Homo sapiens: one gene and its partners. The protein of the gene in region 2 binds, or shares a complex with, the protein of the main gene of each other region. Each region holds a gene or a part of one and is shown on either strand. Other genes may lie near its edges.

Region 1 (7,000 bases), on a different chromosome or scaffold from region 2:
AGGAGTTGGAGACCAGCCTGGGCAACACAGTGAAACCCCGTCTCTACTAAAATACAAAAGATTAGCTGGGTGTGGCGGCATGTGCCTGTAGTCCCAGCTATTCAGGAGGCTGAGGCAGGAGAATTGCTTGAACCCGGGAGGTGGAGGTTGCAGTGAGCTGAGATCACGCCATTGCACTCCAACCTGGGCAACAGAGCGAGACTCCATCTCAAAAAAAAAAAAGTTCAATCTCACCAAAAAGGAAATGTAAAATGAAACTAATAGATTAGTAACATCTAATACTGGCTAGTATGTGAGGAAAGGGGCCCTCATACAGTTATCCTCTTCCATGTATATGAAGATATGTGTACATGGGTATTCACTGATAAACTGTCTGTAAAGTCAAAAACTAGATATAGGCCAGGCACAGTGCCTCACACCTGTAATCCCAGTGCTCTGGGAGGCCAAGGTGGAAAGACAGCCTGAGCCCAGGAGTCTGAGACCAGTCTGGGCAACACAGTGAGATCTTGTCCCCCCCAAAATTTTTTAAATAGCTGGTTGTGGTGGTACATGCCTGTGGTCCCAGCTACTCAGGAGGCTGAAGTGAGAGGATCACTTGAGCCCAGGAGGTTGAGGCTGCAGTCAGCTGTGATCACGCCACTGCACAAAGCCTGGGTGACAGAGTGAGACCCTTGCTCAAATTAAAAAAAAAAAAAAACTACAAAGTAGATATAACTTAAGTTTCCAAATAATGTATGAATACATAAACTATAATATATCCATACAATGAAATATATTTAAAAGAATGAAGTAGACATACACATACCAAGATGGAACTGTTCACATGTGGAGTAAGTTAAGTGGCAGGCCACATGCATATGACTCCAACATTATGAAGAAAAAAAAAATCCCTCTTATACATACTTAAAAAATTATTATTTCCTTATCTGTATAAAATAGGTCAAAAGGATTTGTACCTTTTTTTTTTTTTTTGAGACAGAGTTTCACTCTTGTTGCTCAACCTGGAGTGCAATGGAGTGATCTCAGCTCACTGCAATCTCTGCTCACTGCAACCTCTGCCTCCCGGGTTCAAGCGATTCTCCTGCCTCAGCCTCCCAAGTAGCTGGGATTACAGGCATGTGCCACCACGCTCAGCTAATTTTTTGTATTTTTAGTAGAAACGGGGTTTCGCCATGTTAGCTAGGCTGATCTCAAACTCCTGACTTCAGGTAATCCGCCCACCTCGGCCTCTCAAAGTGCTTGGATTACAGGCGTGAGCCATCACACCTGGCCGGAGTTGTACCTTTTACAAGGATTTGTACGATTAACAGTGGTTAACGTTATAAGAGTGGGCCAGGTGCAGTGGTTCAGGCCTCTAATACTAGCACTTTGGGAGGCTGAGGCAGGCAGATCATCTGAGGTCTGGAGTTCAAGACCAGCCTGTCCAACATGGTGAAGCCTCTTCTCTACTATAAATACAAAAATTAGCCAGGTGTGGTGGCATGCACCTGTGATCCCAGCTACTTGGGGGGCTGAGGCAGGAGAATTGCTTGAACCCGGAAGCAGAGGTTGCTGTGAGCCAAGACTGCACCATTATACTGCACAGCCTGGGGAACAAGAGTGAAACTCCATCTCAAAAAAAAAAAAAAAAAAAAGAGTGATTGAAAAAGGTGAGAAAACGCTTTATATATCTCAGTATTATGTGAATTTCTTATAAATGTAGTTTTGGGGGCTGGCTGTGGTGGCTCACTCCTGAAATTTCGGCACTTTGGGAGGCCGAGGTGGGCGGATCACCTGAGGTCAGGAGTTCAAGACCAACCTACTTGGTGAAAAGCCGTCTGTACTACAAATACAAAAATTAGCTGAGCATTGTGGCGGGCACCTATAATCTCAGCTACTCGGGAGGCTGAGGCAGGAGCATCGCTTGAACCAGGGAGGCGGACGTTGCAGTGAGCCGAGATTGCACCATTGCACTCCAGCCTGAGCGACATGAGCAAGACTCCATCTCAAATAAATAAATACACAAACAAACAAATAAGTGTAGTTTGGGGGATTTTTTTGAGAAAGAGTCTTTCTCTGTTGCCCAGGCTCGAGTGCAATAGTGCAATCTTGGCTCACTGCAACCTCCGCCTCCCGGGTTCAGGCAATTCTCGTGCCTTAGCCTCCTGAGTAGCTGGGATAGCAGGTGTGCACCACCACGGCCAGTTAATTTTTGTATTTTTGATAGAGACAGGGTTTCGCCATGTTGGCGAGGCTGGTCTCAAACTCCTAGCCTCAAGTGATCCACCCGCATTGGCCTCCCAAAGTGCTGGGACTACAGGCATGAACCACCATGCCCAGCCTATAAATGTAGTTTTAAAAAGTAATTAATGGCCAGCCATGGTGGCTCACGCCTGTAATCCCAGCACTCTGGGAGGCCGAGGTGGGTGGATCACCTGAGATCAGGAGTTTGAGACCAGCCTGGCCAACATGGCAAAACCCTGTCTCTACTAAAAATACAAAAAATTAGCCGGGCATTGCGGCATGTGCCTGTAATCCCAGCTACTCGGGAGCCGAGGCAGGAGAATCGCTTGAACCTGGGAGGCAGAGGTTGCAGTGAGCCAACACTGAGCAATTGCACTCCAGCCTGGGCAACTAGAGCGAAACTCCGTCTAAAAAAAACATATATATATATATACATATATATAATAATAATAATTATTGTTGGCTAGGCACGGTGGCTCACACCTGTAATCCCAGCACTTTGGGACGCTGAGGCAGGTGGATCACCTGAGGTCAGGAGTTCGAGACCAGCCTGGCCAACATGGTGAAACCCTGTCTCTACTAAAAATACAAAAAATTAGCCGGGCATGGTGGCATGCACCTGTAGTCCCAGCTACTTGGGAGGCTGAGGCAGGACAATCGCTTGAACCCTGAGGCAGAGGATGCAGTGACCCGAGTGCACCACTGCACTCCACCCTGGGCGACAGAGAGAGACTCTGGTTCAAACAAAATAATTATTATTGTTTAATGGCTCCTTATTTTCTGAGTCACACTGTGTTCTGAACAAATTAAACCACCAAACAGCTATTCTTAACACTGGACTTCAATCTCTTCTCTTTGAAATAAAATAAAACTTTAATCATTAAAGTTAAATGATAACTCTTCAGCCTGGTCTGATGGTAATGGGTTATCAGAACTTTTTTTTTTTTTTTTTTTTTTTTGAGACAGAGTCTCACCCTGTCACACAGGCTGAAGTGCAGTGGCACAATCTCTGCTCACTGCAGCCTCCGCCTCCTGGGTTCAAAAGATTCTCATGCCTCAGCCTCCTGAGTAGCTGGGATTACAGGTGTGTGCCACCACATCCAGCTAATATTTCTATTTTTTTTTTAGTAGAGACAGGGTTTCACCATGTTGGCCACGCTGGTCTCAAACTCCTGACCTCAGGTGATCCTCCCAACTCGGCCTCCCAAAGTGCTGGGATTACAGGCATGAGCCAACAAGCTCAGCCTGTTATCAGAACTTATTAACGTTAGTGTCACTAAAGTTTGTATACAACCCCCCACTGCTAAATTTGACTAGCTTCAAAATAAATAAAAATTTACAAAATAAATAACTCTTTAAAAATCTCTTTAAAAAGGAACATTGTTTCTCCTGCATTGACTCTGATATAAAGAAGGCAAAAACTTACATTGTTCTGGCCAAAGATCTGGTGAGGCACGGTCAAGTTTTTCAAAACTTAGCAAAGATGCTTCCAGATCTGTCCCTAGAACAAAACATCCAGATGAACCAAGAAGACAGGAAACACATTAATGTATATGATACTTCAATCTCAAAGGACATAAACTGGAACACTCACCTGGAAGTCTAGAGATATGAGTTCTGTAACTATTGATGCCACTGGTCCGTGATAGAATACAAATAAATCATTCTCCCTTACCAAACCTCACTCTTTCAATCTATGAATGGGAATGATATTTTATTGGGAGTGTTAAGAAAAATGAGTATCAATGAACCCACCTGCATCTTCATTCATACTCTTGTGCTTTCCTCCAGTTACAATGAATTAAGTGTTTCTCCTTCCATGAAACAGACTCTTCTGATAGCACTCTAGATGCCATCTTCTCTTGCTTTATCAAGGACATCATTTGCATATCATCTTTCTCAGGTACCATCAGTTTCTACCTTCTCTAGCCTCATCTCAGTGTCACTAAAGTTTGTACACAACCCCCCACTGCTAAATTTGACTAGCTTCAAAATAAATAAAACTTTACAAAATAAGTAACTCTTTAAAAATCTCTTTAAAAAGGAGCAGTACCAATCAAGCTGGTTGCAGAATTTCTGTGTTTCAAAAAAAAACCCCAGCCGGACATGGTGGCTCATGCCTGTAATCCCAGCACTTTGGGAGGCCAACACGGGTGAATCACAAGGTCAGGAGTTTGAGACCAGCCTGGCCAACGTGGTGAAACCCTGTCTCTACTAAAAATACAAAAAATTAGCTGGGTGTGGTAGCAGGCGCCTGTAATCCCAGCTACTCAGGAGGCTGAGGGAGGAGAATTGCTTAAACCCGGGAGGCAGAGGTTACAGTGAGCCAAGATTGCACCACTGTACTCCAGCCCAGGCAACAGAATGAGACGCCATCTCAAAAAAACAAACAAACAAACAAACAAAAAACACCAGGGCAGGTGGGGTGCCTCATGCCTATAATCCCAGCACTTTGGGAGGCCAAGATGGGTGGATCACTTGAGGTCCGGAGTTCAAGACCAGCCTGGCCAACATAGTGAAACCCTGTCTCTACTAAAAATACAAAAATTGGTCAGGCATGGGGGAACACACCTGTAATCCTAGTTACTGGGGAGGATGAGGCAGGAGAATCGTTTGAACCTGGGAGGTGGAGGTTGCAGTGAGCCAAGATCACACCACTGCACTCCAGCCTGGGCAACAAAGCAAGACTCCATCTCAAAAAAAAAAAAAAAAAAGAGTGCACTGTTATACATGCCCACTTGGGCTTTGGGAGTCACAGGCACCCACCCCTAGATGCTACCGTGGGGCTGGAGCCCAAAAGTGCTCGCCCTGACTCCTACACCTGCCCATCTGCGTGCTCCCTCTCCCATAAGAGGATTGAGTGCACACAGACAAGCCACACCCCTGTCGTATGTCCTGCGGTTAGGGAACTCCCCTATTTCAACATGAGGACTTTTATCTTCATCTGTATGCCAATGACTCCATATTTATATTTCCATTCCCAACCTTTCTAAAGAACTACAAAGGTTTATGTCCAAGTGGTTATTTGAATCCCTCTCTATTTACATATAAAAAAACTGCTTAAGGCCAGATGCAGTGGTGCACGCCTGTAATCCCAGCAGTTTTGGGAGGCCGAGGTGGGTGGATTGCTTGAGCTCACGAGTTTGAGACCAGCCTGGCCAACATAGTGAAAACCCATCTCTACAAAAAGCAAAAAAATTAGCCAGGTGTGGTGGTGTCAGCCTGTAGTCCCAGCTACTTGGGAGGCTGAGGTGGAAGGATGGCTTGAGCCCAGAGGTGGCAGCTGCAGTTAGCTAAGGTCACACCACTGCACTCCAGCCTGGGTGATAGAGCCACATCCTGTCTCAAAAAAAAAAAAAAAATCCCCACTTAAACTTTAAACCTAATTATCTTCAAAACCATATTCCCCCAATCTTCTCCCATCTCAAGAAATAACACTACCATAAATTCCAATTCTCAGATCAAAAACCCAGATGTCATCCTTCATGCATTCTTTTCCTTCACCCTTCCATAACCAATCCATGAGTAAATCTAGTCGTTTCTACCTTCAGAATACACCCTGAAATCAAATAACCCAAGGAACCATCACTTCTTTCTTGGACTACTTCAACAGCCTCTTAACAGATCTCTCTGCTCCCATTCTTACCCTTTCCCCTTCACACCCCCGGAATCTATTCTCCATAAAGAGGCCAGAATTGATTTTTTTAAACGTCAATCAGTTCGTGTCTCTCTCCAGCTTAAAGTTCCTCCCAGCTAAATCTGTGAATGTGTATCTACCACACTCTATAAAATCTTACTCAGCCTCTACCTAATTCTTTGACATCATTTCTCTTCCACTCTTCCCTTGCACACAGTAGTACTCAATATTAACATTTGTTGAGTTTTTATTGTATGCTCAGTATGCTAACCAGTTGCATAACTAGTTCATTTAATGCTATAAACAGCAGTTCTTAACATTTTCTGGGTAACCACATCTCTGGAAATCTGGGAAATAAAATGAACTCACTCCCCAGAAAATATACATACGTACAAAATGTACTTTTCTCTAAACTGAATTTGTTTTGCCAAATATTCCAAAGGAATTTCCAATGGCATTTTAATTGTAAAGAACTCAACTAATACATTGCCTTAATTAAAGCATCCAAAAATTAGCTTCTCTTTGTTACCGATTTCTGAGGAATGTTCAACCATAACAAAAGTAAAGTTATTGGGCCAGGTACAGTGGCTCATGTCTGGAATCCCAGTGCTTTGGGAAGCCGAGGCAGGAAGATTGCTTGAGCCCAGGAGTTTGAGACCATCCTGGGCAACATAGTGAGACTCCATCTCTACAAAAAATAATAAGGTGGGGGCATGGTGGCTCACGCCTGTAATCCTAGCACTTTGGGAGGCCGAGGTGAGTGCATCACCTGAGGTCAGGAGTTCAAGACTAGCCTGGGCAACATGGTGAAACCCCGTCTCTACTCAAAATACAAAAATTAGCCAGGTGTGGTGGCGTGTGCCTGTTATCCCAGCTACTGGAGAGGCTGATGCATGAGAATTACTTGAACCCAGGAGGCGGAGGTTGCAGTGACCCGAGATCATGCCACAGCACTCCAGCCTGGGTGACAGAGTGAGACTCCGTCTCAAAACAAAATAAATAATAATAATAATAAATTAGCTGGGCATGGTGGTGTGAGCCTATAGTACCAGCTACTTAGGAGGCTGAGATGGGAGAATCGCTTGAGCCTTTGAGGGTGCAGTGAGCTATAATCATATCACTGCATTTCAGCATGGGCAA
Region 2 (5,357 bases):
CAACACAGTTGTTTTTATACGTCCTAGTCTTCAATGTCTGGCTCCCAAAAGGGGAAAGAGAAAAATGAAGGAACAGAGGTCGGGGTAGAAAGCTGAAATGGACCAAAATTAACTGCAATGTGCTGACCAAGCCTCCCTTGAAAGCTTTAAGCCTTCAGTAGATTCCGTAGTTACAGAACAGCTGCATCAGGCAGATCCTGCCCGCGAGGTAGACATCTACCTGGGCAGCCAGATTCCTGGTGCTCCCTATTCCACCATCTTCCCAGAATCCTCTCAATCTTATTCTTGTTCTCAAAGTCAAACTTTTAAATTTTGTCTCAATTTTCATTGTGAAAAAAGGCCAAGGAACTTGGCTTATCTTTCTCTGCACCACAGGCACCGAAAAGGAAGGTGCCTCTTTGCCCTGTGTCCACCAAGACCTCCACCCTTGGCCACCTTCCACCTTTTCAGGGTGGGCTCCCGGAGGATGTGCCTCAGACAACATGTGGTGGTGGGGTTTGCACCCACAGGGACCACCCGGGCCCACCGCGTCTGGGCCTAACAACCTACTTTCTCACTCAAGTATAAAGTAAAACCAACAAGACAGACAAATTTCTAGATAATAATCCTGAATTAGAGAAACACAGCTTGTTTAAAATGCCCATGCGCGTTTTATTAATAAAAACTAACAGTGCCAAGTTAAACAAGTCAAACAATTAAAGTCTCTTTATATACCATAAAATATTACAGAAAAGTTTATTTGTGTTTCAATAAAAAGACTATCGTTTTAGAACAGGCAGCTAATAGCAACTGTGCAGTTAATGGGTTTTGTGAATAAATTTTAAAAGAGACTACTGCCTGTCCTTAAATTCCTTTTTCTTTTTATAAAAAAAGAACTATTAAAAATGATTGACAAATTTTGAGTTAAAAAATTGTTAAAACATTCTCTATATTTAATTTCAATTTTATAATAGATTACAGGAAGATGCTTATGAAACAAATACATTTGTTTCAGTACATGTCTTTAAATGATAGACTTATAAGTATGTAAACAACTATATAATAAAAGGTTTCCAAACGCTGCCTGTAAGAAATCAGGCAAATTTTACCATAAGCAATAAACCATTCCAAGCCTTCCAGACAGTCTCCATAGCCGCACCAGCATGGCAATAAGCTTTAACCAAACGAAAACAAACAAACAAAAGCACTTCGCAATTTGTTGCTGCAAAACAGGGAGAGAAAAGAGTGTACAAACTTGATGGAATCACAACAGTCAATATAATTTAAGGGACAATAAAGTCAATAAGGTTGATGGTGTTTATTGTTTAAAAAGTTGAATTCTGCTGTTTGCTTGGGGCTGTTTAGAAAGTTGCATTCTGCTGTTTGCTTGGACACCGTACCACTGAACAAACTCCACAGAGTCTTGCTATCCGCCAGCAGGGGTGCCGTCCAAACTCACGGCAAATAAGCGGCATCAGGGGCTCACCATCCACAACAGGAGGTGTTTTATTTTCATGGATGTGGTTGAAATACAATTTCTTCAGCAAACTCAGCAAAAACTTTTCAGGGGCAAAAATGAACTCTGCACTTAAAGAAAAATAGCAAATGAAAACACAAAATCCTAACAAGTAAATAAACGCTCTGCATCAGCACACTGGTATCAAAACACACATCCACAGCACGTCCTAATCCTACGGGAAACAATCCTTGCTTATCAGAGGTGCATATCTAAATTCAATAGCTTACCAATATCTTCTTGGGAGTAGGCCAAAAGGAAACAGAAAACCCACATTAAAAAAAAAGTTTCTTTTCGCTAAACGTTTTCCTGAAGCCGAATCTGAAGTGGGGAGGACGTCAGTCGTCCTCGTCATTCTCGTTGAAGTCATCGTCCTCCTCGTCGTCCTCCCCGACGTAGGACACCGGAGTCTCCACCCTGGAGCCGCTGTACTGAGACCCATTGGAGCTTGTGGCCAGCATCCCATCTGCACCGTTGGTCAGGTCACTGCAAGGCAGGAGGCGGATGGCGCCGTCAGTGCAGGCGGCCCACCCAGCCTCCCCCCGCCTCAGGGCTTGTGGTCAAATGACAGGCTGTGCCCCACAGGTGTGGGTTTTGTCAGTCACACAAACAGAACGGGGAGGCTGAGTGTCTGCACTACAGCACGCCAACGCTCTGGCACTTACTCCATCTCTGTCTGGTTCTCTTCTGGCCCTGTCTCCTGGAACCCATAACGACAGAAACAGGAGGCTGAGCAGAGCCACACGCTGCCTCTCCCTCACTCATCATTCCATCAGGAGCAGTGCCCCAGAGGGAACAAACTGTAAAACCATTAGATCCCTCCCTCCGGGACTTTCACTCATAACCAGCAACAGGAAAAAAGAGAGCCCGGGGCAGGACAGGATGGAGTCCAGAGCGTGGGTCGAATCTGGCAGCGGGGACTGAGAACCCAGAGGGCTGGCAGCACCACAAAAACCTACCACCAACCAGAGCTCACTACGTTCCTAATGTTTAAAGATGTTTTCAATTAACATAAAACCATATGTACATATTTTAATACATTTTAATGGTATTTATTAACACTACAATAAAAATGTGTTAATGTGCCTTTTGATGAAGTAATTCTGTATCTTGGAAACAAGTCAGAAATGGCGAGAAATTCAGCTGTAAAGCTGCTCACTGCAGTTTTTATTCTAACTGGGAACTACCTAGATGTCCTTTCATGAGGTACTTGTATAAAATGTCTCATCATGCCACTATGAAAATCGGTATTTCGTAAGAAATGGTAATAGCTTTGTTTCCATTGTTATGAAAAACTGACAAGTCTGAAGAATCACATCCATAAAAAGGATTATGTGATGATAAAAGTCCTAAAAATACCCACATCCCACCTCATGGAAGAAGCAGCATTAAACATGTTTACAGACTGACCGCCACACGTTCACACATAGCTACAACAGAAGGAGAACCGGCCTCTGTCAAAAGCTTGTCACCAAAGTCCTTTCTTCCATCACCACCTCACTGATCCTTGCCACAGATCAGTAACTCATCAATCACCAGTCTCACCTTACAGGTGAGGAGGCCAAGGCTGGCTTTGCACTTCCAGAGCTGGCCAGGAAGCTACACGTGCCCGACACACCTGTTACATCTCATGGCCACAGCACATCCCAACGCAGGCTCAAGCACACTGAAACTCACTATGTCGAGCCCTGTTACCCGGACCCATAGGTTACTGAGTTCTTGTATTTCTAATTAAAGATTTTATTAACACTTAAGATTAATATAAAGTAATACTATATATTGTATCACAATGCAATATAAAAGTTAATAAAATCATTGTTTTGTTAATATTTACCATAAAAGTTATATTTATCTTTGAAGCACTAAGATCAATACCTAGGGACACCATTCTACTCTGTGGGATTGCAGGTCAAAGATTAAATACAAATTTATTTAAATAAAGGCCCTTTAATAGCATAGAAACAATATATATTCATACAATAAAATGTAAGCTGAAAAATGCACGGAACAAAATATGTGTGCTGTGACCACAGACGCGTTCTGAAAAATACGTGCGCTGTGATTGCAGACGCGTTCTGAAAAATACGTGTACCATAATCACAGACGCGTTCGCAAAAATACATGCACTGTGATCGCAGCACGTGCGCCGAGACCGCAGACGCGTTCTGAAAAACACGTGCGCCGTGATGGCAGACGTTCTGAAAAATACATGCGCTATGACCATAGATGCATTCTGAAAAACACATGCACCATGACCGCAGATGCGTTCTGAAAAATGTGTGCTGTGATCGCAGACACGTTCTGAAAACTACTTGCGCCCAGACCGCAGACGCGTTCTGAAAAATACGTGCGCTGTGACCGCAGACGCGTTCTGAAAAATGGGAAAAAAAACCTGGAAATACTTGCTGTTACTTGGGCTGCCGGGGACAGGAGGATTTGGGTGGTTTTCATTCCTACTTTACTTATTAGGTGATACTATGAAAAAAAAACCACCATGTATTACTTTCAGTTTTTAGTGAGCAGAAACCAACTAAGAAAAGCAGCTCTCCACACAGGGAAAGCCAGCGGGGCCCCACTGCCTGGACAGACAAGCCACGTCAGAGCAGCCACAGACCTGATGGCCACACCTGAGACGGCTGCCCTGCCTTGGCCCCTGGACCCCGGGGGAGGCCCAGATGACGCCTCTCCCACACCCTCAACGACTGTCACCTGGCAGAGAACCTTGTGCCGTTAGACGTGGAACCTGCCGTCGTGATGAACACGCCTCCAACAGTTCCCTGAGCCATTTCTGAAAAGGGAAAGAAAATAAGCGAATGGTCATGAAACAGAAACAACACAAGACGCACAGGCAACCAACAAAATGACGCGCAGTTCCACAGGACAGACGGCTGTAGAAGCTTCCGGATATCCTTCGCTTGTCCAGTATTTTCCACACTGCGCCACGGAGCAGGACATCCCGCTGTGCAGTCACATAAGCCTGTCTTCTCTAAAAAGGCAAGAACAGCCTTGCAATAAATACCTGCACACACTGACTTACAAACGGCACACGTGTGCTGCTGCCTCAGTATCATACCCATCGTGAAACGGAACCGAATCAAAGTGTCAAGCTGAAACCCTCTTCCCACAGCCCATCCTGGCAGCTCCATGAAGCACGGGACAGAGGCCGGGGTCAGGGCCCAGCCCACGTGGGCGGCCAGAGCCCACTGTCACCTGACAACATGGACCAGCCAGATTTTCACAAGATCTGGGGCAGTCTAAGAGCTCAGGGAGGAATCTCTGACCCTCTCAGGGAATAAATCTACACCCCAAGTTTAGGCTAACAAGAGAAGGATCAGCAGATATGACACCTTCACAATTTCTCACCTTAAAGCCATCCTGCTGTCAGTGGCTGGGACCCTACGGCCCCCAAGGAAAGAATTCACCAGAACAGAAAAAAAGCTCCTTCAACAAAAGCTCCTGTGCTCCCGGCCCTCCGGAGCAGGACGCCAATGACTCTGAAATGCTTTTTCTTGGTGACTTTGCCCTAGTGACCAATCAGCTACCATCAGTGGGTGGGATCAGCAATCCAACTGCACTTCTCAAAGAATCTCAACTTCTACTTCTGGGCCTACTTGGAGGGTAAAATCCTGACTTAGCACCTCCTCACACAAACCACATAGGAAATCCACACGAGCCACCTGTGGACTCAAGGCCCCCATATCCAGTGGGTCACGGCACTGGCTGGACCCCACCCCAGCCACACCCCTGCCCTCATCCCCCTCACAGCCCCTTTGTCTTTGCTCCTGGCCCTACACACGTGGGCCTGATCTCAGCAAGACACATCCCGAGCCGGGAGGGGAGGGCACCGTCGGAGGCTGGGGGC
Region 3 (7,000 bases), on a different chromosome or scaffold from region 2:
ACAGTAAATAGTGACCAATATCCCACTCTGATGGACAATAATTAGAAACAGTGTAACTCAATTTGCTCAAACACGCAAAATGATAGCAAAAAGTCACCAAATGGCTACTGTAATTACCAAAGGCCATAAATTATGAGTATGAAACACACTAAATAACATATCAAATTTTAATTTTGTTATTATAAGAAATATTAAAAACATCATCATCAAGGTCATCTTGATGACAGTTTAATTAAAAGTTCTCTCTGTATTTCATCACCATCTAAAGAAATCATTAAATCTAAATTCCATTTCTATTTGTCCAAATCACTTTATATTTACAGACCTTCCTTGAACTTTCCCACCATTTAAAATGAAAAAGTCTTGCACATACTTTTTACCAGGCAGATAGACATAATGTGAGAACTAATGATCTAATTATTCTTCTAACATATTTCCAATTTTCACTCAAAAGTAATATAAGGTTTTCCAATGTGTTACCAGGATAACACTGGAAAAGAAAAAATCATTTCACATGAAGAGCAATTCTCAGGAAGTAACATATTAGATAGATTAATTTGTTTTCTACTTTTATATAAAATAAAATAGGCACTTCTGGGAAGGCTCCTGAGATTATAAAGGATTTCACAAAAGATAACAAAAATGTACACAGAACTTTACAGCATCCTTAAATACTTTTTAGGACATTCTTAAATATTTTTTGGAACACAGAGGGACATAGATAATGTAAAACTAAAAAATTACGTTGAAAACCTGTGATCCTAACAAAAATGAAATTGTGCATTTAATTATAAGATGCATACGTATAAACAGCACCTACATTAAAGTTGGTTAACAGGATATATTTAACATATAATCAATTATTCTGAAAAGTTATGTTTTGGTACTAGTCATTTTAAAGATTAAAAAAATCAATGTACTAATGATACTAACAACTATTATTTATTGATTTTATTTTTTAATTCTTTTTTAGAGGAATGGTCTCACTGTGTTGCCCAGGCTAGAGTGCAGTGACTATTCACAGGTGTAATCACAGCATACTACAGCCCTGAACCCCTGGCCTTAAGCAAATACCCCATCTTAGCCTTCCAAGTAACTGGGATTATAAGTACATGCACTGCTACTGGCTTGATTTTATTTTAAACAAAAACAAAAACATTATTTTTACCTCCGTGGTTTTCCCATAAGCCGCCGAATTTTTCCCCATTCTACTCTTGTTAACTTTCTTGTTTTCAAATTAGGAAAAGATTCCTTTAGACATACACAGAAGTCATTATCACCTTCAAAAAGTGGTCTGTAAAACAGATATAGTATTTTAATGGTTACATACAATGTGTTACTTTCTTAAAACACATAAAATCACAAAATGCTAAACTTTCACTTCTACCCCATATATATATATAAACTGGCACAAATTCAAAGTGCTAAAACTAAATCCTTGGCATTTGTGAAACATCTAATGTCGTGTAAAAGTTGCTCAGGAAATATTATTTGTGTTGTGATTCCAAGAGACACTGATTTTTGTTCAATCTCTTATACAGGTATATCCTTTGGGAGGCTATCGTGGCCCTGGCCTTGTATCAGGTGAAGATAAACCAAGTTAGCTACAAAGTATCTTTGTCCCAAAGGAATACCATCACCAAGGAGTCCTCTTTGGAATTAAACCAGTCTTGGGACACTGGAGGACTCCAGAGGGTTAGATTAGCTTGGGGGATCCCAGAAGAACTCAGATTACACTGAGACACCCTGAAAACTCTCTTAAGCCTATGGACAAAAATAAAACAATTCTATTCATGAGTCTGGGAAACCAGGAACCAGTGTTGGCAATGATACATAAATGCCTTGGGCTCAAATATGAACATTCATGAGATTCACAAGCTCCAGAGTAGGCAATTGGTATAGAAAACAGAGAAGGGAAGAAAATATAAATATCCAGCAGAGCAAGCAGCAATGACTGGCATATGAGGAAGGATTATAAATAAGAACTTTTCCTCAGTAAATTCCATTGTTGAATAATTGTATTTCAGCCAAATCTCATACTACGTCATACTTAAGCATATGTGTATACCTAGCGTGCTTAAGTACCACATCCAAACTAGAAAGACTACCCTCTTAAAAATCTTAAGCCATTTTTACCATTAGTAATGGTTTCTCTATGATTATACCAGCACTTAACATCTCAATTATAAAATGAATCTCATTCACTGCAAATAATGGTGTTTTAAGGTATCTCTACTCCATAGTCTTTAAGAATTCTAACACAGAAATTATACCGTAATCAATTCTTCACAAAAATGTACAGTTTTCTTCCCCAAAAAGGATAACAGGGAAGAAAACTATGACAAATAGAATAGATCCAACTGGAATGTGGAACAGAAAAATGAATTTAGAGAAAAATAAGATCAAAGTAGACCTATAGAAAATGTTGTAGCTTAAAACACTTGAAAAACTTAAATTTCTGATTCAAGTAATATTCATAATATAAGCCATGATACATACTTATCTATATTTGAATAGAACCACTCGTATATACACCATTTATGTGCTTTAGGAAGCTTGAGCAGATTACGTAATCGAAAACCAATCTTCTGTGAAGCTTTCTTATCTGGTGTTGACATTGTTGCTGTAAATTTCTATACAATAAAAAAAAGAGATTAATTTATGGCTCCATTAAGTAAAAATGAACATTTATAACCCTGAATAAATTTGCAAAAGGTAAATTATGTTTAAGTACTTAAAAAGGTTCACTGATTCACTGATATTCAACATGGAATTTTGTTGCTGTTTTAAACACTCCGATTATTTTTGATTATTGCCTTTTTTTTTTTTGACAGTCTTGCTCTGTTGCCCAGGCTGGAATGCAGTGGCACAATCTCGGCTCACTGCAACCTCTGCCTCCCGGGTTCAAGCTACTCTCTTGTCTCAACCTCCCAAGTAGCTGGGACTACAGGCGCACGCCACCACACCCAGCTAATTTTTGTATTTTTAGTAGAGATGGGGTTTCACCATGTTGGCCAGGCTGGTCTCAAACTCCTGACCTCAGGTAATCTGCCTGCCTCAGCCTCCCAAAGTGCTGGGATTACTGGTGTGAGCCACAGCGCCCAGCTTAGATGGATACTTTTTTAACCTAATAAAACATTTCTCCCCACTCCAACCCAAAAACCAGTATCGTAATATTAAAAGACGATGAGAACGACAAATATTTCAACTACCACCACTAACCTAGTATGACAAAGATTTCAACTACCACCACTATTTCATAACACTGTTTTGAAGGAATTGGCCAATCAGGTAAGAAGAATAAAATTTAGAAAGAAGATAAAACTACCATTTCCTTGTAGGTGAAAACTCAAGAAAATCAACTGTAACAATTAAAAACAGTAAGAAAATTTAATGAAATGGGTAAATACAAAGTTGATATACAAAAACCATGATTCAAAAAAATCACTATATGTAAATAATAACTGGACAGGCCATAAGAGTTTATATCCTGTTTATAACAGCACAAAAATGGACATAAACAAAAAAATTAAATATGTAGGAATATACTTACGAAACATGCAAGACTGATATGGAAAAAAATTAAGTCTACTGTGAAATACTATGAACTAAGTGGAACTACAATCAGTTCTTAGGTAGTCTCAATGTTACCTATATATATCATTTCCCATAAATTATAATATTAGTCCAATCCCAGTCAAAATGCCAACAGGATTTTTTTTTCCTAGTCAAGTTGATTCTAAAGTCTACATGGAAAAATAAATGCACAAAAATATTTAGGAAAAAATCTTATGCTGGGCGCAGTGGCTCACGCCTGTAATCCCAGCACTTTGGGAGACCGAGATGGGCGGATCACAAGGTCAGGAGCTCCAGACAGCCAGGCCAATATAGTGAAACCCCATCTCTACTAAAAATACAAAAATTAGCCGGGCGTGGTGGCTGTGCCTGTAGTGCCAGCTACTCAGGAGGCTGAGGCAGAAGACTAGCTTGAACCTGGGAGGCGGAGGTTGCAGTGAGCAGAGATCACACCACTGCACTCCAGCCTGGGCGACAGAGTGAGACTCCATGTCAAAAAAAAAGAAAGAAAAGGAAAAAAATCTCAAAAAAAGAATATGTGATAATATCTTACCAGGCATTAAAACACAGTATAAAGTCATGTTAAACCAATTTTGTGTGTGTGTGTGTGTGTGTGTTTTGGTTTTGTTTGTTCTTTTGAGACAGGGTCTCTCTCTCTGTCACTTAGGCTGAAGTGCAGTGGTGCAAACATTGCTCACTACAGCCTTGACCTCCTGGGCTCAAGCCATCCTCCCACCTGAACCTCCCAAGTAGCTGGGACTGCAGGCATGTGCCACCACACTGGGCTAATTCATGCATTTTTTGTGGAGACGGGCTCTCGCTATGTTACCAGGTTGGTCCCAAACTCCTGGGCTCAAGCGATCTTCCTGCCTCAGCCTCCCAAAGAGCTAGGATTACAGGTATGAGCTGCCATGCCCAGCCAAAATAATTTGATACTAGCACATATAGAGATATGCTAGATGTAGAGATAGAAAGCCTGAAAGTAATCCCAAATACTTATACGAATTTAGCTTTGATGAAGGCAGCATTTTAAATCAATGTTTAAAAAGATGGATTACCCAATAAATGTTACTAGGACAACTAAGTAGTCCTCCGGGGGGGGGGGTGGGGGGGGGTGGGAAAGCTAGGTTGCAATTTTACTTCATCCCTTACTGCAAAATAAATTCCAGATGTACTGAAGGTTCAAACCAAAAAAATGAAATATGAGAGAATTCTAAAATGATAAATTTTAGTGTAGAAAAGGTCTTTCTGAGCATGACAAACTCAAGAAGTCATTAAAAGGTAACAAAGTTACATTTGATCCTTAAAATATTTTAAAATCCCATATGTTAAAAAATACAGAAACAAATCAAAAGACAAACTATAAACTCTAAAAAAAATTACAGCCATTATAAACATCCAAAGGGCCAATATTTTTAATATATACAAAATTCTTATAAACTAGTAACACAATGACCCACAATCCAATAGAAAAATGGGAAAAAGGCATAAACAGTTTACAGAAAAGGAAAGAAATAATTTTTAAACATATGAAAAGTGTCTCAACTTTGCTCTTATATAAAATGCCAACTAAAACAAGTGAGAGGCTATTTCTTTTTTTTTTTTTTTTCTTTTTTTTGAGATGGAGTCTCGCTCTGTTGCCCAGGCTGGAGTGCAGTGGCACGATCTCGGCTCACTGCAAGCTCCACCTCCCGGGTTCACGCCATTCTCCTGTCTCAGCCTCCCGAGTAGCTGGGACTACAGGCGCCCGCCACCACGCCCGGCTAATTTTTTGTATTTTTTGTAGAGACGGGGTTTCACCGTGTTAGCCAGGGTGGTCTTGATCTCCTGACCTCGTGATCCGCCCACCTCGGCCTCCCAAAGTGCTGGGATTACAGGCGTAAGCCACCGCACCCGGCCAAGGCTATTTCTATATATCAGATTAGCAAAAATCTAGATGGTTGGTTCTGTACTGAGTTGGAGGCATTTGGAAAATAGGAACTCTAATATATATAAACCAGTACAATTTCTTTCCTTTTTTTAAAAAAATTTTTTAACACAGCGTCTTGCTCTGTCACCTAGGCTGCAGCATACTGACACGATCGCGGCTCACTGCAGCCTTCGCCTCCCAGGTTCAACCTATTCTCATGCCTCAGCCTCCCGAGTAGCTGGGACTACAGGCACGTGCCGCCACACCTGGCTAATTTTTCTATTTTTAGTAGAGATGGGGTTTTGCCATGTTGGCCAGGCTGGTCTTGAACTCCTGACCTCAGGTGATCTGCCCACCTCGGCCTCCCAAAGTGCTGCTATTACAGGTGTGAGCCACTGTGCATGGTCCCAGTTCAATTTATTCGGAGAGTATTTGGTACTGCTTTAAAAACTTTAAATGTACATAATTTACGATCCAGCAATTCCACATCTTAGGCATCTGTCCTAGAAAAAAACTTGCAAATTTATACAAACATGCTCAGGATGTTCACTGCAGCATTATTTGTCAAAGTAAAAATTTACGAACAATTTAAATGCTCCCAAATGGGAGAATTTATAAATAATGATATAAAATTGAATACTATTCAATAGTAAAAAGAAATGAAACACTGAATCCGATTATCTCAATCAATCAACATGGCCAGATCTCAAAAAAAGACAGTGAAAAAATTACAGAATGACACATGGCACAATACCATGAAAATGATACTACAAATGTAATTTTTAGAATACATACATTTAGAAAAAGAAAAAATATATATACATTTAACAATATTAAATATTTTCTATGAATACATTAAAAGTATATTTAAAAGGTTTCATAAGGATAATCAAACTAATTATAGTGGCTGCCACTGTATGAGGGAAGTACATATTGGAATGGTAAGTTAGGGTCAAAATTTTAAAATTTTTATTATAAACTTTGTATTTTGGAAAAGTTGTAGATTTACAGGCAAGTTGCAAAGATAGTACATATTCCCACATGCCCTTCACCTGGCTTTCCCTAACATCAATATCTTATAGTAACTTTGGTATATTTGTCAAAACTAGTGCAATACTATTAACTAAACTACAGGCTTTATTTGGATTTTACCAGTTTTTTCACCAACATCCTTTTTCTGTTCCAGAAACCAATTCAGGATACCACACTGCATTTAGAAAAATAACTTTGTTTTTCTTTGTTTTCCCTCAGTGACCATTCTCAGGAGAAAAAAAAAAATTAAATGTAAAAAGAAGAAAAAAGAAAAAATTTATAAGTGAGGAGATGTTTAGCATAAATAACCAAATTACTATAAAATATTCTTATCACAAAAAGTGTTATTTCTTTCTACTACATTATTGACCCAGATTTTTAAATAGGGTATATAGGGTATTAGCAGCTCATCGAATATAAAACTATATTAAGGACCCGCCTGTTGGGTATGGGAAAATAGATTCAAATTGTTAGAGGGAATCT

What was found. The genes of interacting proteins can lie anywhere in the genome.
Region 1: TFDP1 (region 2) and LIN52 share a complex: the UniProt entries of both Homo sapiens proteins name them as parts of the DREAM complex.
Region 3: TFDP1 (region 2) and LIN9 share a complex: the UniProt entries of both Homo sapiens proteins name them as parts of the DREAM complex.

The regions. Positions count from the first base shown.
Region 1 is NC_000014.9:74,087,956-74,094,955, reverse strand, and holds part of LIN52 (protein lin-52 homolog), read right to left. Parts: intron 3,725-7,000; coding exon 3,650-3,724; intron 1-3,649.
Region 2 is NC_000013.11:113,636,744-113,642,100, reverse strand, and holds the end of TFDP1 (transcription factor Dp-1), read right to left. Parts: intron 4,482-5,357; coding exon of another isoform or gene 4,284-4,481; coding exon 4,205-4,283; intron 1,982-4,204; coding exon 1,834-1,981; 3' UTR 628-1,833; downstream 1-627. UniProt on the Homo sapiens protein: Can stimulate E2F-dependent transcription.
Region 3 is NC_000001.11:226,285,165-226,292,164, forward strand, and holds part of LIN9 (protein lin-9 homolog), read right to left. Parts: intron 2,634-7,000; coding exon 2,500-2,633; intron 1,295-2,499; coding exon 1,169-1,294; intron 1-1,168. UniProt on the Homo sapiens protein: Acts as a tumor suppressor. Inhibits DNA synthesis. Its ability to inhibit oncogenic transformation is mediated through its association with RB1. Plays a role in the expression of genes required for the G1/S transition.